Regions from separate parts of the Homo sapiens genome. Here region 2 is linked to region 1. Evidence: fine-mapped expression QTL. A gene starts in region 1. The other region holds a variant in brackets. All regions are shown on one strand. Distances are from middle to middle.

Region 1 (8,342 bases):
TCATATACTGTGTAGAGATCGACTTATTTGTAAATGTTTCCAGAACACTTATGTGCCAGGCACTGTTCTAAGCATCTCATCTATCGATCCTCATAAAAAGCCTCCAAGAAGTATGACTATTAAGCCCATTTTATACTTTAGAAAACTAAGTTTTTAAGCAGGGTGGCAAAACTTGAACCCAGGCAGACTGTGTCCAGAACCCACATTCTCAACCAATATGCACTACTGCCTACATAAATTTGGAGCCCAGGAAAATCAACTGAAAAACCATTAGAAATGGCAATAGACTCAAAACATGGTTGGTACCAGAATTAATATGTAAAAATAATATATAATATACATAGCAAGTATATATACACATGTACTATATATATGCATTACATATCCATATCTGTATCTATATTATCTATATTATAATGACTGCTTTCATGTACATGATCACCAATGAACTAAGGGAGTAAAAGATCCCAGTCAAAAGGGAAAAAAATAAGCAACTCAAATATCTAGAAATAAATTTCAGAAATATGCAGAATATACACACATACTACAAAATTCTACCAAAGGGTAATTAAAAAGTCATTAATAAACAGAAAAATAATGCTTAGGTGGAAAGACTTGGTAATAGAGCTCCCTTTCTCCATAATTAATCTCTATATTTAACATCTGAATTTAATTTACTTCGAGGGAGTGTCACAGTTCAACAACTAGGCACTTTAATATAAATTGGTGCAATCTTTGGAGGAAATGTTGGGGTGTTGGGGCAGTATCTATAAAAATTTTATAAGTGCATCCCCTTTGACATAACGATCCTACTTCTAGGAATCTACTCTGCAGAAATGCCAACACATGCTACCAAAGATGGATAAGAAATGTTGAGTGCTGTTTTGTATGCAGTAGGAAGAAAAAGAGAAAGAGGGGCAGAGGAACAAAGGGAGAAAGGGAAGAAAGGAAGGAAGGAAGAAAAAGGAAAGAAGACAGAAAGAGAGAAGGAGAGAGTGAGGAAGAGGGTGGGAGGGTGGAAGGAAGAAAGGAAGAACTGCAGGCAAATGAAATGCCTAGCAAAGGGAACAGATTTTTAGAGAATCATAAAAGGGTATGCTGTGGAAATGTTAAGAAGAGAAAGGTTTAAATATGTTGACATAAAAGAAATCTTAGCTAGGTTTGTGCTTTGGACTGAATGTTTGTCCTCCTCCTGCCCAGCCAAAATTCGTGTTATAAATCCTAATCTCCAATATGATGGTATTTGGAGATGGGGTCTTTGGAAGGTAATCAGGTCATAAGGGTGCAGACCTCAGTAATGCATGTTCTTTATTAGTGTCCTTATAAGAAAAGACAGGAGAGATCACTTCTCTTCTCTGCTTTCTCACATGTAAACCGGAAAGAGAGCCCTCACCAAAACTTGACCATGCTGGCACCCTGATCTGGAACTTCCAGCTTTCAGAATTTTGAGAGATAAATGTGTCTGTTGTTTAAGCCACCTAGTCTTTGAGAATGTGTTACAGCAGCTCAAGTAGACTAAGACCAGAAGGGAGAAATGCAAACTATATCAGTGCAAATTACAGAAAAATGTACAGAGATATGACCATTTTATTTTTAATGTGGAGTATAATTTAGTGAAGGAGAAAAGAAGGGTATGGGGATGGCAATTTCCTGTTTTGATATCTACACTTCTGCAAAGATCATTACTTTTATAATCATAATTAAGCATTTGATTCAACACTGAGTCTTGTGTTAGACACTGGGAAGGTGAACATGACAGTCAGGGCACCTGTTAAGTCCATTTTTAAATTTGTGATTTAAGTTGCTATAGCTATAATAAATTAAATGATGTATATATATATCTGTTTGTGGATTTTGGCATCTATCTCTCTCTGCATTGTGGTGCCAGGGCCATGTTATTTTCATTATGAAAGCTTTATAACAGGTTTTAATATCTGACTAGGCAAATTCTCTCTCATTACCCAGGATGATAATTTTCTAGGCCTTTAAAAATTAATTTTATTGAGGTGCAGTTTACATACAGTACAATGCACCACTTAAATATATATATATTTCGATGAGTTTTGTCAAATTTATACGCCCATATAACCATCAAAATAAAAAATTGACCAAAGTATCCAAAAGATCATTTGGAATTAGAACTAGTAAAAATTAACAGAAAATACTCGCTATAGTGCAACACGTGACAAAGAATTACTACTTCAATGTGTAATACACATAAAGTGTTTAAAAGTCAGGAGGAGAAAGATACTCCAACTGAAAAATGGGCAGAAGAATTAACAATCAACTCACCTACAGAAATGCAAAAGGCTACTACACAGAGGAAAAAGTGTTAATTCCCATGGGTAATCAAAGACATGCAAATTAAGACAAGATACCATTTTTTGGTCCACGCTTTTGATTTAAAACTTCAAATGTGTATACATAGAGAAAATTTTAAGATATGCAGAAAATCTAAACCATCTAGAAGTTGAAGTTTTAAGTTATTTTTATTTTGCTTCTCCTTTGGATTTTTGTTTACTGGATGTTTTCTAATATGTGTATCCTTACAACATTCTAATAATTCTAATAATGTTGATTTTCTCTTCTCACCTCATAAAGTACCTAGTGCAGTGCATTCTAGAAATTCACCCCTAAAAAAAAAAGCTATTTCCCCTATAGAAGGAGAAACACACACATGCACGCGCACACACACCCGCATGTGTTGCTAATGGTCCGCATGGTGAGATCATCATTGGAGCCGCCCTGCGGTCCCCCGGAGAGAGCCTGGGCCGAGCAGAGGATGCGGGTCACAACGACCCTGCAGGAGCTCACGCCCCAAGACACCGCGAGCGCAGTGCGACACTAGCGACGCCGGAGCCAAGGGCCAGAAAGAGGGCGAGACACACCCAGGTGGATCTAATTAACCCTCCCTCTTGGAAAAAGAATGGGGGACGATGTCCAGGGCCCTGGATCTAGTGTCTGTCGCTGACCTTGGGCAGTCCCTGCCACGCTTGAGCCTCAGTTTCCCACCCGTAGGCCGAGCTGACCGTCTCCATCGCTGCGCTCCTTCCCTTCTGCTGGTTTTTCCTGGTCCTGGGAGGGACGCCTTCCTCTGCCCAGTCGCCCTCCCCCAGCCCTTGGCTGCGAGGTCGCCCGCAGAAACCCAACACTGCTGCCGCGCTCTCGGCGCGCCCGGCGAACCTAAGGTGTGGACGCGCCGCGAGGGTCCCCTGCTTGCGGGCGGCCATTAGGCGCCAGGCCCCTTGGCGCTTCGGCCCTGCTAGGCTCGGCGAGGGTCTTACCCAGACTGGCACGCGCCCCGCTCGCGTCCTTCTATTGACCTGTCAGCGCAGCTGGCGCAGGCAAGGGCCAGGGAGGCGCCCCCGAGACACTCAACCATCCCCGCACTGATGCGGGCCCCTGCTGCCCTGGGGACCCCTGCGGGGTCCTCGCAATCCTCCGGCAGGAAGCGGTCGGAGCTGCGGGCAGGGCCGCTAGGCAACCCGCCTGCCCGAGGCGCACTGCCCGGGGCACAGGCCCTCTGCGATGACTCTCCCCAACCCCCAGCTGCCCTGCTTGTGCCAGCTGTGGCCACCCCTAATCCTTGTCCCCTCGCTCTAGTGTCCAGGGCTCCGACCACCGCGCCAGAAGGGCTGGGCAGATCGTGCGCAACAGAAACCTACCCGGTTGGGGCGACCAGCTCGGTCCCCTGCGCGCGCCGAGGGCCGCCTCTGGTATTGCCCAGGCTGGCTAGCTCATCCCGGTGGAGGCGCCATCTCCGGGGCCCGGAAGGAGCGGGCGCAGCGCGGTTTGGGTGTGCGCCGGAGCCTCACCTCCTCCCGCCTCGCAGCTCAGGCGCAGGGCTCCCCTTGCTCAGGCGGGCCATGTGACCCGCGAGCTGCGGAGAGACCGCGGCCCCCAAAGCGGCTTGGGGAAAAAGGACGGCAAAAGGCGCCAACTGATGGGCAGCCAGGGAAAAGCAGGAGTCGCCCCCAAGTCACGCAAACAGGAAGCCTGTTTCTTTTGTGAGGGGACTAGAAGCCAGCATTATATTTCATCAGGTGTGTACATAGAGACTTATTCACACCAATGGAACGATATCTCTCAATGCGTGTAAACGCTTCATGAGAAAGCTGTTACTTTGGGTCTTGAATGTTTTTCAGTCTTCCCCAAACCCTCAATTTAAACACAAACGGCCACGAGAGACATAACGCCTGAGGTATGAGAAAGTATGCACATTGATTGAGAACAATCCCGGCAAAGCAAATAGGAAAAAGATACGGAATGATCCGAGGGAGGAAAAATGTGGGGGTCAAAAGAAAAGTAACAGCCTCCTACATTCCACCTTGGACTTTCCCTTCTGAATGGGTTTTCAGCACACAATTGTACGGCCTTACTCAGTGCTTCTAATCCTAGGTTTGCCTGTCTAGGCCACAGGTTAGCAACTACAGTTTGCTGCCTGTTCTTGTACAGCCCACAAGCTAAGAATGTTTTTTGCAATATTTCATGGTTAAAAATGGAAGAATATTTCAGGGCTACGAAAATTATATGAATTCAAAATTTGATGATCGTAAACAAAGTTTTACTGCAACATAGTCATCATTTACATATTGTCTATGGCTGCTACCATGAAAGAACAGCAGAGTTGGATAGTTGTGACAGAGACCTTATGACCCACAAAACCTAAAATATTTACTGCCTGATTTGCCAACACCTGCTCTAAAAGGTCTGTTCAGTGGTCACAAGATAAAGCATTAAAGCCAGTAAATGCTCATATGATTTCTTCTTGTGTAAGTAAAATTGATACTAGATATTAACTTCCTTTAGAACCTTACAAACACCCACCTGAGCCCCCATTCATCATCTACTCTTTCAGCCAGCATTTACTGAAGAATGGTTCTGACATACTGCCATCACTATAGATGACAATGAAGTAAGAATGAGGTGTGGATCCTTCACTCAAGGAATTTGTCATTAGGAATGCTGGAAAACCTATATCTGAGGCTGGAAAGTATGAGAGCTGGATATAGCACAGAAAGGGAGCTTGGGAAGGTAGTTTCATTTCCTGGGAGAAAAAATGGGAGTCTGATATTCCGAAATTGGAGGATTGTAACCAACACAAGTTGAATTCAGTTCACTGTCATTGGCTCAGTGCTGGGGTCTAATCTATTTACTGGCTATGACAAATTAACTCCTCTGTGCCTCAATGTTCTCATCTATATATTGGGGACAGTGATATTTCCCTCATAGGTTTGTTGAGAGGTTTACATGAGATAATGTATATAAAGTGCTTAGCATTCTACCTGTCAAAATATCTAGCTTTCTATAAATGGTTGGTAGTTATTCACTTGTTTAACAAAAATTCATTGAGTACCTATTATGATGTTCCAGGCAATGTCTGTGCTGTCCAATCTCATGGTCACTAGTCACATGTAACTACTTACATTTTAATTAATTAAAATTAAATAAAATGTAATAATCAGTCCCTCAGTAGCACTAGCCACATTTGAAATGCTCAGTACCTACATGTGGTTAGTGCTACTGTATTAGATAGTACAGCTATAGAACATCCCATCATCACAGAAAGTTCTATGAGATAGTGCTTTTCTAGAGAGTAAGGATTCAGCTATGAACAAAACCAAGTCTCTGCCTTTAGGGAGCTTACATTTGGGTGGACAATAGATAATAAGCAAATAAATGCATACTATATCAGGTATTGATAAATATTTTAAATAGTAAGATCAAACACTTCCCTAGTACTTTCTATGGCTGTTACTGTCCTGAGTGCTTTTTACTAACTCTTAATCACTCCAACAACCCCATGAGACAGGTAAGCTAAGTAACTTACCCAAACTGCTAGAAAGAGGAAAAGCCAAAATCCAAACTGATGAAATCCGGCTTCAGAGTCCATTCTCTTAATCAACATGCTATATTTCTTCTCAAAGCAAAGCAAAAATAGAAAAAAAAGAAGAATAATAAAATAAGAGGTTAGACACTAGTAGTGGGTACTATTACAATTATTATAGTAAACATCTTAACCTCTATGCAAGTAGGGTATTTCATTGGTTAGGCTTTGGCCAGAAATAACACACTACAACAGGATAATGAAAAAAATCTATTTTCAAAGGTGTGGGTGAAATTAAAGAAAACCAATAAGGCATAGTGCAGTGCATACCCTAGGGCTTGATACCAAGGAACTATTACTTATCCTAGGCCTGATGAGCAAAGTAAGGAAACAGTGATTAAAACAACAAAAGAATAATTGTAAAAAGGGAGACATCCTATGGGACCTGTCACTAATGGAATGAGGCAGTGAACCTATGGTGACCCATCAGGGAAAGAGCCAGGAGAATAAATAGCATAACTCTACTTTCTTCTGCCATCTTATCTCCTGCTAGTGTCTCCCATTGGCTGAACCCAACCAGAAATCAGAGGGCAAGAGAGCCCTTGATGCAATCCATGTAGCTCAAATTCCCAGGACACAGAGCTGACTGGATGACCAGGAGGCATAAACAGAAGATATCCAGTAAAGTCTTCTTACTCTGAACATCTTCTCTTGTACTTTGTTCATATAAAAATTGAACAAACCTTTTGGGACACATAAAAAAAGTTCCAGTAACTATGGTGTCATAATAGAGTAATTGAATTTGAACATATACCTGAGACATAAAATATTAATCGTTACTATTACCCTTCCTAATGGGAAGAGTGGGGATGGAGGACAAACAATACGAAACATAACTGTTAGAATCCCTACTTCTATGGTTGGTCATGAAATTTAAGTTGAGAATCATAGCTTTCTTCTTCCACTACCCATTGCACATTCCCCTTTCTGCCAGCACTTCACTGTATAAGGCTCTTTACAGAGGCCTCCTACAAGGCTCTTTGTAAAGGCTCTTTACAAACTTTTTTATTTTATTTTATTTTTTTACTTTATTTTTTGAGACACAGTCTCAGTCTGTCGCCGAGGCTGGAGTGCAGTGATGCAATCTCAGCTCACTGCAACCTTCACTTCCCAAGTTCCAGCAATTCTCATGCCTCAGCCTCCCGAGTAGCTGGGATTACAGGCACATACCACCATGCCCAGCTAATTTTTGTATTTTTAGTAGAGCTGGGGTTTCACCATTTTGGCCAGGCTGGTCTCAAACTCCTGACCTGAAGTGATCTGCCCGCCTCAGCCTCCCAAAGTGCTGGGATTACAGGCGTGAGCCACTGCGCTCAGCCCAAACCTTTGATCCTACAAGATTTAGGTTCTTGGTGCATCTCTTGTTACTGAGTTCCTTCAGTTTTCCACTGATCAGGACTATTGGATATGTGTGTACTCACATGGACTTGTTAATGAACTTCTAGGTTCTAGATATAGTCCTCCTTGATTTGATTGTATAGCAGCAACTAATTTCCCATTGGTATTGTAATCAATTACTTAAGGCTATATAGTGGTGCCTTTCTTTTCTTGTTCCAGTTTCCAGCTCAATAGGCTGTGAATTCCCTGGTGGAAGTACTTCTTCTTTGGATATGAGAGTTTCCAAACCTGCTAAGTTTGTGGGGCTTGGAAGAAAAAAATATCTCTGTAGTAAGTTTTTTGCTGTAATAGTGAGAAGAATATATCTTTGCTTCCTGGATGTCTGAATTCTCGCTATCGGCAAATTATGCCACACGTTGGCTATTGGTTTAAGGAACGTGCTGCATTCTTGAGGATAGCACCTCAACTTCTCATGGTGCTGTCTCACAGCTGGTGTCATAACTGAGCCTTCAGAAGACCATTACACCATTTAATAATACCAGCTTCTTCTGTTTGATGGGATCCATGGTAAGACCACTGAATTCCAAAGATATTAGTTAATTGTCATACTTCCTTTGCTGTAAAATGGGTCCCCTGGGCAAAAGTAATATGTGGTAGAGCAAGGCAATGGTACGCTTATTCTGTAAGTTCATGAATAGTGGTATTAGCAGAAGTGCTGTGGCCTAGGAAAGAAAATTGGTACCCAGAAATCTCTACAGAAGACAAATGGTTATTCCCCCCCGATAATAGATGTGCAGTATAACCAACCTGGCACCAGCTAGCTGGTTGGTTCTTCTGGGAAATAAAGCCATATCACAGAACCAGCATTTGATCATTGCTGTTGACAGTTTGAGCACTTAACATGAACGGTAGCAAAATCAGCACATTATTGAAATTGATCAGTACAATTATTGAAATCATTCAGAATCTGTCCCGACTGACATGGCCATTTTGTACATAGGCCCATTAAACAAGCACTACTTGACTAAAGAAGCTGATTCACATCTACCAGACAGGTCATATTGACTACCTGATTCAGATCAAAATATTTTCAATTTTTCCTTGTAATTTATTCTTT
Region 2 (8,342 bases), 31 kb before region 1:
CTAGAGACTTGTCGAATGGCTTTGACAAAAATGCTGGTAATGATATGGACAATGAAATCCAGGCTAAGGTGGTCTCAGATGGACATGAAGAACTTTTTGAGAACTGGAGCAAAGGTGACTCTTGTTATGTTTTAGCAAAGTGACTAGCAGCATTTTTCCCCTGCCCTAGAGATTCATGGAACTTTGAACTTGAGAGAGATGATTTAGGGTATCTGGCAGAAGAAATTTATAAGCAGCAAAGCATGCAAGAGGTGACTAGGGTAATGTTAAAGGCATTCGGTTTTAAAAGGGAAACAGGGCATAGAGGTTCAGAAAATTTGCAGCCTGATAATGTGATAGAAAAGAAAATCCCATTTTCTGAGGAGAAATTCAAGCCAGCTGCAGAAATTTGCATAAGTAACAAGGAGCCAAATGTTAATCACCAAGACAAAGGGGAAATGTCTCAAGGGCATGTCAGAGGTCTTCACGGCAGCCCCTCCCATCACAGGTCGGGAGGCCTAGGAAGAAAAGTTGGTTTCATTGGCTGGGTCCAGGTCCCCCCTGCCCTGTGCAGCCTAGGGACTTGGTACCCTGCATTCTAGCCACTCCATCCATGGCTAAAAGGGGACAATGTACAGCTTGGGCTGTTGCCTCAGACTTTGGAAGCCACAAGCCTTGGCAGTTTCCATGTGGTGTTGAGCCTGCAGGTGCATAGAAGTGAAGAATTGGGGTTTGGGAACCTCTGCCTAGATTTCAAAAGATGTATAGAAATGCCTGGATGCCCAGGCAGAAGTTTGTGGCAGGGGTGGGGCCCTCATGGAGAACCTCTGCTAGGGCAGTGCAGAAGGGAAATGTGGGGTCAGAGTCCCCATACAGAGTCCCTACTGGACAGCTCAAGTGGAGCTGTGAGAAAGGGCCACCATCCTCCAGACCCCATAATGGTAGATCCACTGACAGCTTGCACAGTGCGCCTGGAAAAACTGCAGACATTCAACATCAGCCAATGAAGGCAGCCAGGAGGGAGGCTGTACCCTGCAAAGCTACAGGGGCAGAGTTGCCCAAGACCATGGGAACTCATCTCTTACATTAGTTTGACCCAGATGTGAGACATGAAGTCAAAGGAGATCATTTTGGAGCTTTAAGATTTGACTGACCTGCTGGATTTCGGACTTGCATGGGGCCTGTAGCCCCAATGTTTTGGCCAGTTTGGAATGGCTGTATGTACCCAATGCCTGTATCCCCATTGTATCTAGGAAGTAACTAACTTGCTTTTGATTTTACAGGCTCATAGGCAGAAGAGATTTGCCTTGTTTCAGATGAGACTTTGAACTATGGACTTTTGAGTTAATGCTGAAGTGAGTTAAGACTTTGGAGGACTGTTGGGAAGGCATGATTGGTTTTGAAATGTGAGGACATGAGACTTGGGAGGGGTCAGGGTGGAATGATATGGTTTGGCTGCATCCCCACCCAAATCTCATCTTGAATTTCCATGTGTTGTGGGAGGGACCTGTTAGGAGGTAATTGAATCATGGGGGCAAGTCTTTCGCATGCTGTTCTTGTGACAGTGAATAAGTCTCACAAGATCTGATAGTTTAAAAAGGGGAATTTCTCTGCACAAGTTCTTTCTTCTCTTGTCTGCTGCCATGTGAGACATCCTTTTACCTTCTGCCATAATTGTGAGGCCTCCCCAGCCATGTAGAAATATAAGTCCAATAAACCTCTTTCTTCTGTAAATTGCCCAGTTTGGGGTATGTCTTTATCAGCAGTGTGAAAATGGACTAATACACACACACACACTCACACACACATATATACACACACACACATACAGTTTATGTCACTATTATACCTCATTGTAAATGAATAACTAGTCTTCTGGATCTATGTTTTTATCTTATGACCCTGGTTAAGATGATTCACTCTGAGAAATGTATCTGTTCTGAGCCTATAAATAAAATCCAGATATGATGCTGCAGGGCTGTAGTTCAAACCATATGTCATGAGAAATTTACCCTGTGAGGCCTGTAGTCTTGTCCTTTTGATCCCTGGATAAACCCAGACACTACCCCCATAGTTGAAAAAATGCCACTAAATTGCATTATATGTAGGGTTTTGCATTCTGCTTTTTTGTGTTCCATTACATCTTGAGCATTTTCCTATGACATAATCATAGAAAAACCATATCTGAGAATGTAATTTTTAATAGGTCTATAATATTCTAAGATATATATATATACATATATATATGCCTTTATTTATTTGACTGGTAGTGTGACAAGTCCCCCACCAGGATACTTAAGGGTATATGTCTGCTGCCTGAACCCTGAAGACTGGGCAGTGACTCACAGTCATGATGCCCTGCAGAGAACTAAACAAGTGTCCCTGAAAACCCAAATATCCCGGAGAGTATCTGAGAACCTACCAAGAAAAACAGTCTCATTGCTCAAACACAGCAGGCAAAGAGCCAGAAATTAGCTTAAAAGCAGTTTAGAGATGGGAGGTGGTGCGGATCTCGAGAGCTGTCCCGCCACCATCCAGGAGTGCCCTGTGCATAAGTCCTAATAAACTCATCTACTCGTTAAGCTGGACTCGTTCAAGTCATTCTTTGGTCTCTTCATTCCTTCTCAGTTTGGAGGGAACATTAAAGTTCCAAGTTTTTCTTGTAACAAACCAACTTCTGTTATTGGAAGTCTGCCTATTTCTAATTGTTTGCTGTTATTATACATAAAGATGCAATGAATAACCTTATAGGTAAAGCTTTTTATACACCTCTGCTTTTTTCATTCATAAACTTCTAGGACCAGAAATATTAGATCAAATTGAATTAATGCTGTGGCCAACTGCAAATTGTTCCCCAATATCCATTTTCCCCTTCTAAAGTAGTAGAGTTTTAGCTGGGTCTATAGCTACGTCGTTAATGATATTTCTATATAGCCAGCCTGGCAGCTAGATGTGCCTGTGTGACAGGTCTGGCTAGTGGGATGTGAGTGTAATGAAATGATGTGGGCCCATTAAAGAATTATGCTTTGCCAGGCATGGTGGCTCATGCCTGTAATTCCAGCACTTTGGGAGGCTGAGGCGGGAGGATCACGAGGTCAGGAGTTCAAGACCAGCCTGACCAACACGGTGAAACCCCATCTCTAGTAAAAATACAAAAATTAGCCTGGTGTGATGGTGCACACCTGTAATCCCAGCTACTCAGGAGGCTCAGGCAAGAGAATCGCTTGAACACAGGAGGCGAGTTTGCAGTGAGCAGAGATCGCGCCACTACACTCCAGCCTGGGTGACAGAGTGAGACTCTGTCTCGAAAAACAAAAACAAACAAACAAACAAAAAGAATTATGCTCAATTCCCTGTCATTGTTGTTTTTTCCCCAGCTCTTTACTGGTGAGAAGATAGCAAAAGCTGAAGCAGACACAGAATCCACAAGTGGAAAATACAGCAGTGCCATTAAAGGTAATAAAAGATAAAGTTTATCTTTCTTCCAAGCTCTTTATTTTAATTTCTTATAGGATTTTTGTTACTTTTTAATGTTGTTTTAAGTAAAGAAGACTAAAAGTTTAAATCAGTATAAATTTTCATTTTTATATTGTGCCACACCCATTTTAAATGCAAATATAAGAGCACTTAACTCGTGTCGAATCACAAAAATTACAATTTGTATTTTGTGGTTCATACATGGATATGTAGTTCATTCTTACCAGAAGAGTAGGAACAATGCACACACAAAAAATTCAACTGTTTTTATTTCACTGCTTGATAAAATATGTTCTATCAACATGCTTTGCCTTCTACCTACTGATGAGTAAGGAAGGACTGACAGGAAAAGGAACTACAGGTTACCCTATTGTTCCCTTTCTGTGTTATTTTCAAAGTAAGTTCCTGGCTGATACAGGGAAGTAGCACAAGTAATAAAGGATGTGGTGGGGTTCCTTTGTTGTTCATGTTTCTAACAATGCCATTGCTTTCTTTCTGGAACAGAAGCAAGTCTAGTTTGAATGGAATGCTTGGCCTTTTGGGATCTGTCAGTACTCTCTCCCAGACCCCTGTTAGTCATAGACATAACACACTTAACTTGTACTCACTTGGAGTCTCCCCAAACTCCCATGCATCGTGGGTCTACTGGGATTCTGTGGTCAGAGAGCATTGCCGTTACTACATTCAAACATGGTGGCATGACATGATATACCTACTGTGAATGACAGGTGTCATACAAAGGAAGGACAGATGCACCTACTGTGTATTCCTCTGTTTATGTGCATGCTTCATTGTCCCATTGGATTTGACTTACAAAATACAAATTCAAAGATGAAATTATGAAGAATTTCAAGATGGCAGCAGCAGAGCATTAGGCTACACATTGGGCCCTTCTGATTGTGGGGCTCTGTGTGACTGCACAAGACAAACCCTCATAAAGCCAGCTCTGGGTGGCGGAGCCCTGGACTGCCTGCCTACTGGATGTTAAATGAGATTGAAATAAATTTTGACCTAGTTTAAGCTGTTGTATTTTGAGGTCCCTTTTATACACTTTGCATCCTGACTTATGAAAACACTTTTAGTTCTCAAAACGTACTGCCAATTGCATAACAAAGAGACTATGTCCCTATGTTTAGTTAACACCCCCATGAGCAGTATATGACCACAAATGTTTCCCTCTGCTCTTGCTATTGTCTCTATTTTGATATTTCAACAGCATGCCCAATTCAAAATGCCCCAAACCAAACTCATCTCTCCTCCAATATCAAACACAGACACAATATCAAACACAGCAACTAATATTTATTTAGCTTTTAACATGTACCAAGCGTTTTGCAGGCTTATTTCATTTATTAGGTATCATCATTCATTGTGGCCATTTTCCAGATGAGGAAATGGAAGCTTATGTAACTTAC[T/A]GAAGGTAATACTGAGCTGAGATATGATTTCAGTATTTATGGCTCCAAAGCCTATGAGCATACCACTTGTCTCTCCTTTTCTATGATGGCAAAATAATTCCTAAAACAATGGTGGTGTGATTGGGAAAAGAAATGTTTTTCTTTACATCTTGCAGCAAATCAATGTCTACAATAAATTCAGAATTCTAGTATCCTGTCAGATCACTCTGTTCCCATCATTTCTACCATTGCCAACACACCCTGAAAACTAGTGTATTCACCTGGGAGAGTTTGCTCAGGGAAGCGAGGGTTTTTAAAAATCCCCCTAGTGACCTCTTGTGGCTGATGGACACCCTGCTGAGACCCTGCCTCTGGAATCTACCTGGCTTGCTGCTTCATGTTCACCCCTCCCCGGGCTACAGAAAAAGGGCTCCAAGGAAATCAGAGTTAGGAAATGGGTCGTCCCTGGTTTCAAACAAAGGGCATCATTCCAATATGTGTCAAAAATAAGCTCAGAAAATTTGTAAGAGAGATGGGTTTTCTGTTTCCTGGACTTGCCTTTCATATCTTTTTTCTTTCTTTCTTTCTTGCATCCTCTCTCATTTTTCTTAATTTAGGTGAGGAGAAAATGTTGTAATAACATGTAAATCAGATTAGATAAATAATGATGCTGTAACAAGCCTGGTGGCATAATAGTATATACGAAGGTGTTTACTGAAGTAGTGATTTTAACAGAAAATTTATCTATCAATCTATCTATCTATCTGAAGGAGATTTTAAGTGATTGTATTACCTTTATACCGTGAAATACTACAAAGCCATTAAAATGTATATATGAATACACACTACAGACATACAGACATACACACACATACAGGTGAGGAAAAGGGTGCAGGTAAAGAAACTAAGTTACAAAACAACTTGCATGTTATCCCTTTTTTGTAACACTGGATGTATGCTTCAATGTAAAGAGAAGATAAATTCACCAAAATATTAACTATGGTGATCATCTCAGAGTGGTGGAATTACAGAATTTTTTTTGAGACTGAGTCTTGCTCTATCGCCCAGGCTGGAATGCAGTGGCATGATCTCGGCTCACTGCAACCTCCGTCTCCCAGGTTCAAGCAATTCTCCTGCCTCAGCCTCCTGAGTAGCTGGGATTACAGGCGCGCACTACCACGCCCGGCTAATTTTTGTATGTTTTAGTAGAGACAGGGTTTCACGATGTTGGCTGGGCTGGTCTCAAATTCCTGACCTCAAGTGATCTGCCCGCCTTGGCCTCCTAAATTGCTGCAATTACAGGCATGAGCCACTGCGCCTGGCCAAGGAATTACAGATTTTTAAAAAATTATTTACAGTTTTCTGTATTGCAGTGGTTCTCAACTTAGTACATTAACAACCTATGAAAAATCTGAATGCTCAGCCCACTCTAGACAAATTAAGTCAGAACTACTGGAAGTGAACCCAGGTTCTAGTAATTTTTTAAATTACCCAGATGATTCAATGTGCAATCAAGCTTGAGAATGAGTATATTGTTTGAATGCTTTACAATCAGTGATCATGTTATAAAGCAGAAAGAAGGGAGAGCCAGAAGAAGTTATCTTCATTTTGCTAATTTATGTGCAGTGTGCATGTGTGTATACTGTGTATGCAGTGTGCATGTGTGGCGGTTGCAGACAAACTAAGGCTAAAGCTGGTAAAAATCCAAAGGAACACAGTAAAGTCACCTAGTTGATCATGAAATCTGGTCAGAAAAACCTGGCTTTGTTTCTTTGTTCTAATACTTCCTGGCTATGTGACCTTAAGCAGCTCACTTCACCTGTTTGAATGTCCATTTTCTTTTCTAGTAAGAGTAAAAGGGAAATTCTATTCCCATAGAATTGTAGGATTCAGTGTCATATTGCATGAACAAGGGCTATGTAAGTTGCTAGTTATAATATGTGGTGGAGTAAAGAAGTAGAAAAGAAAGCAGGAGAAATAACTGAGCACTGAAAGACAAAATATTAACATTCCAGGAATGTTAATATTTTTTGTTTCTCCTGAATGCTTTATTTCCCTAACAAACATAGTTGCTGAGGGCCCGCTTTGCACCAGACACCATTTTAAGGGATAGAAGAGAAAACCTAATGACAGTCTGATTGCCGTCAAGAGGCTCACATGTGAAAGGGAATGAGGAGCTGCAACAAATAGCACAATGCGGTAAGTACTGTAAAGACGTGTGCCCAAGGCAGTAAGAGGCGCCAGTGCCTCTTTCAGAGAAGGGGAGGCAAGACTTGTGAAGCCTACAGAGAGCTAAGATCAGGAAATACTGGCTACATGCTTTGTTCTCTAGGGGGAGCTCAAGGCTTTCTCCTTTGATATCTGAATGGAATCAGTACTTCCAGTGAGAAGGGTGTATGTAGATAGATAAGTTGAACTGTGTTAGGATAAATGCTCCAATGCCACTTGATCTTGGAGTTCTTTCTTGTTAGGTATTTTCTATTGAATGGCGTCTTCCTTTGCTCCCGTGAAGCTGGTTCTATGGAAAGACATTGGGTTATCCCTCCCAGTTAAAAATGTTGCTCCCTCCACTTAGAAGACTAAGGAAGAACCAGAGTGAAGGAAGCCCCATGGGCAGGAAGAGGACTCATTTGGGCTCAAGACATTCAGTCCAACCTAGCTCACAAGGATGGATGAGATCATGATTCGGGACCATAACTTGTCACTTGTGCACATACTCTAAACGGTGGCGTTTTTCAAGGTATTGAAAGGAGGTGGCAGGATAGGATTAAGAAATTTGATCCAGACAGGCTTATCAAATTCACTACAACCAACAGATGGTTCTAGATTTTTTTTTTTTCATTAATGTTTCATGACTATGTGCTCTCGATTTGAAGTTTCAAGGTCCTCTTGAAGTTTTTTTTGTTTGTTTTTTTAGACAGGGTCTTGCTCTGTCACCCAGTGCAGTGGTGTGATCATCATGGCTCAATGCAGCCTCTTACTCCTGGGCTCAAGTGATCCTCCCACTTCAGCCTCCCAAAGCATTGGGATTACAAGCATGAGCCACACACACCTGGCTCAGAGTCCTCTTGAATCTGGCAAAAACTTGATTTGGAATTTTCTAAAATTTCTCTTATTTGTTGTAGCAACTGTATTTCATGGGAAGATATTTCTCTGATAGATCGATGCTCTTCTTTTTTATCTCTTTGTATCACCTATAAATGCTCCCATTTGCACACTCTTAAAGAAGTAAGCTTAGGATAGTTTCTTTTTTTTTTTTTTTTAGACGGAGTCTCGCTCTGTCGCCCAGGCTGGAGTGCAGTGGCGGGATCTCGGCTCACTGCAAGCCCCGCCTCCCGGGTTCACGCCATTCTCCTGCCTCAGCCTCCCAAGTAGCTGGGACTACAGGCGCCCGCCACTACGCCCGGCTAATTTTTTGTATTTTTAGTAGAGACGGGGTTTCACCGTTTTAGCCGGGATGGTCTCGATCTCCTGACCTCGTGATCCGCCCGC

Evidence for each region.
Region 2: its variant is fine-mapped to the expression of PGAP4 in adrenal gland (GTEx, PIP above 0.99). The same link has a PIP of 0.9 or more in subcutaneous fat and visceral fat.

What each region holds. Positions count from the first base shown.
Region 1 is chr9:101,483,284-101,491,625 of GRCh38, forward strand. PGAP4 (post-GPI attachment to proteins GalNAc transferase 4) reads right to left here and starts at 3,890. Exons shown (of 2, transcript NM_032342.3): 1 at 3,666-3,890.
Region 2 is chr9:101,452,022-101,460,363 of GRCh38, forward strand. It overlaps LOC105376184 (a long non-coding RNA gene), which reads left to right. Exons shown (of 4, transcript XR_001746862.2): 3 at 3,357-3,435; 4 at 6,920-7,068. Among named protein-coding and RNA genes, the nearest start is that of TMEM246-AS1, 12 kb to the right of the region's middle. The variant T/A (reference allele first, on the strand shown) is at 4,872.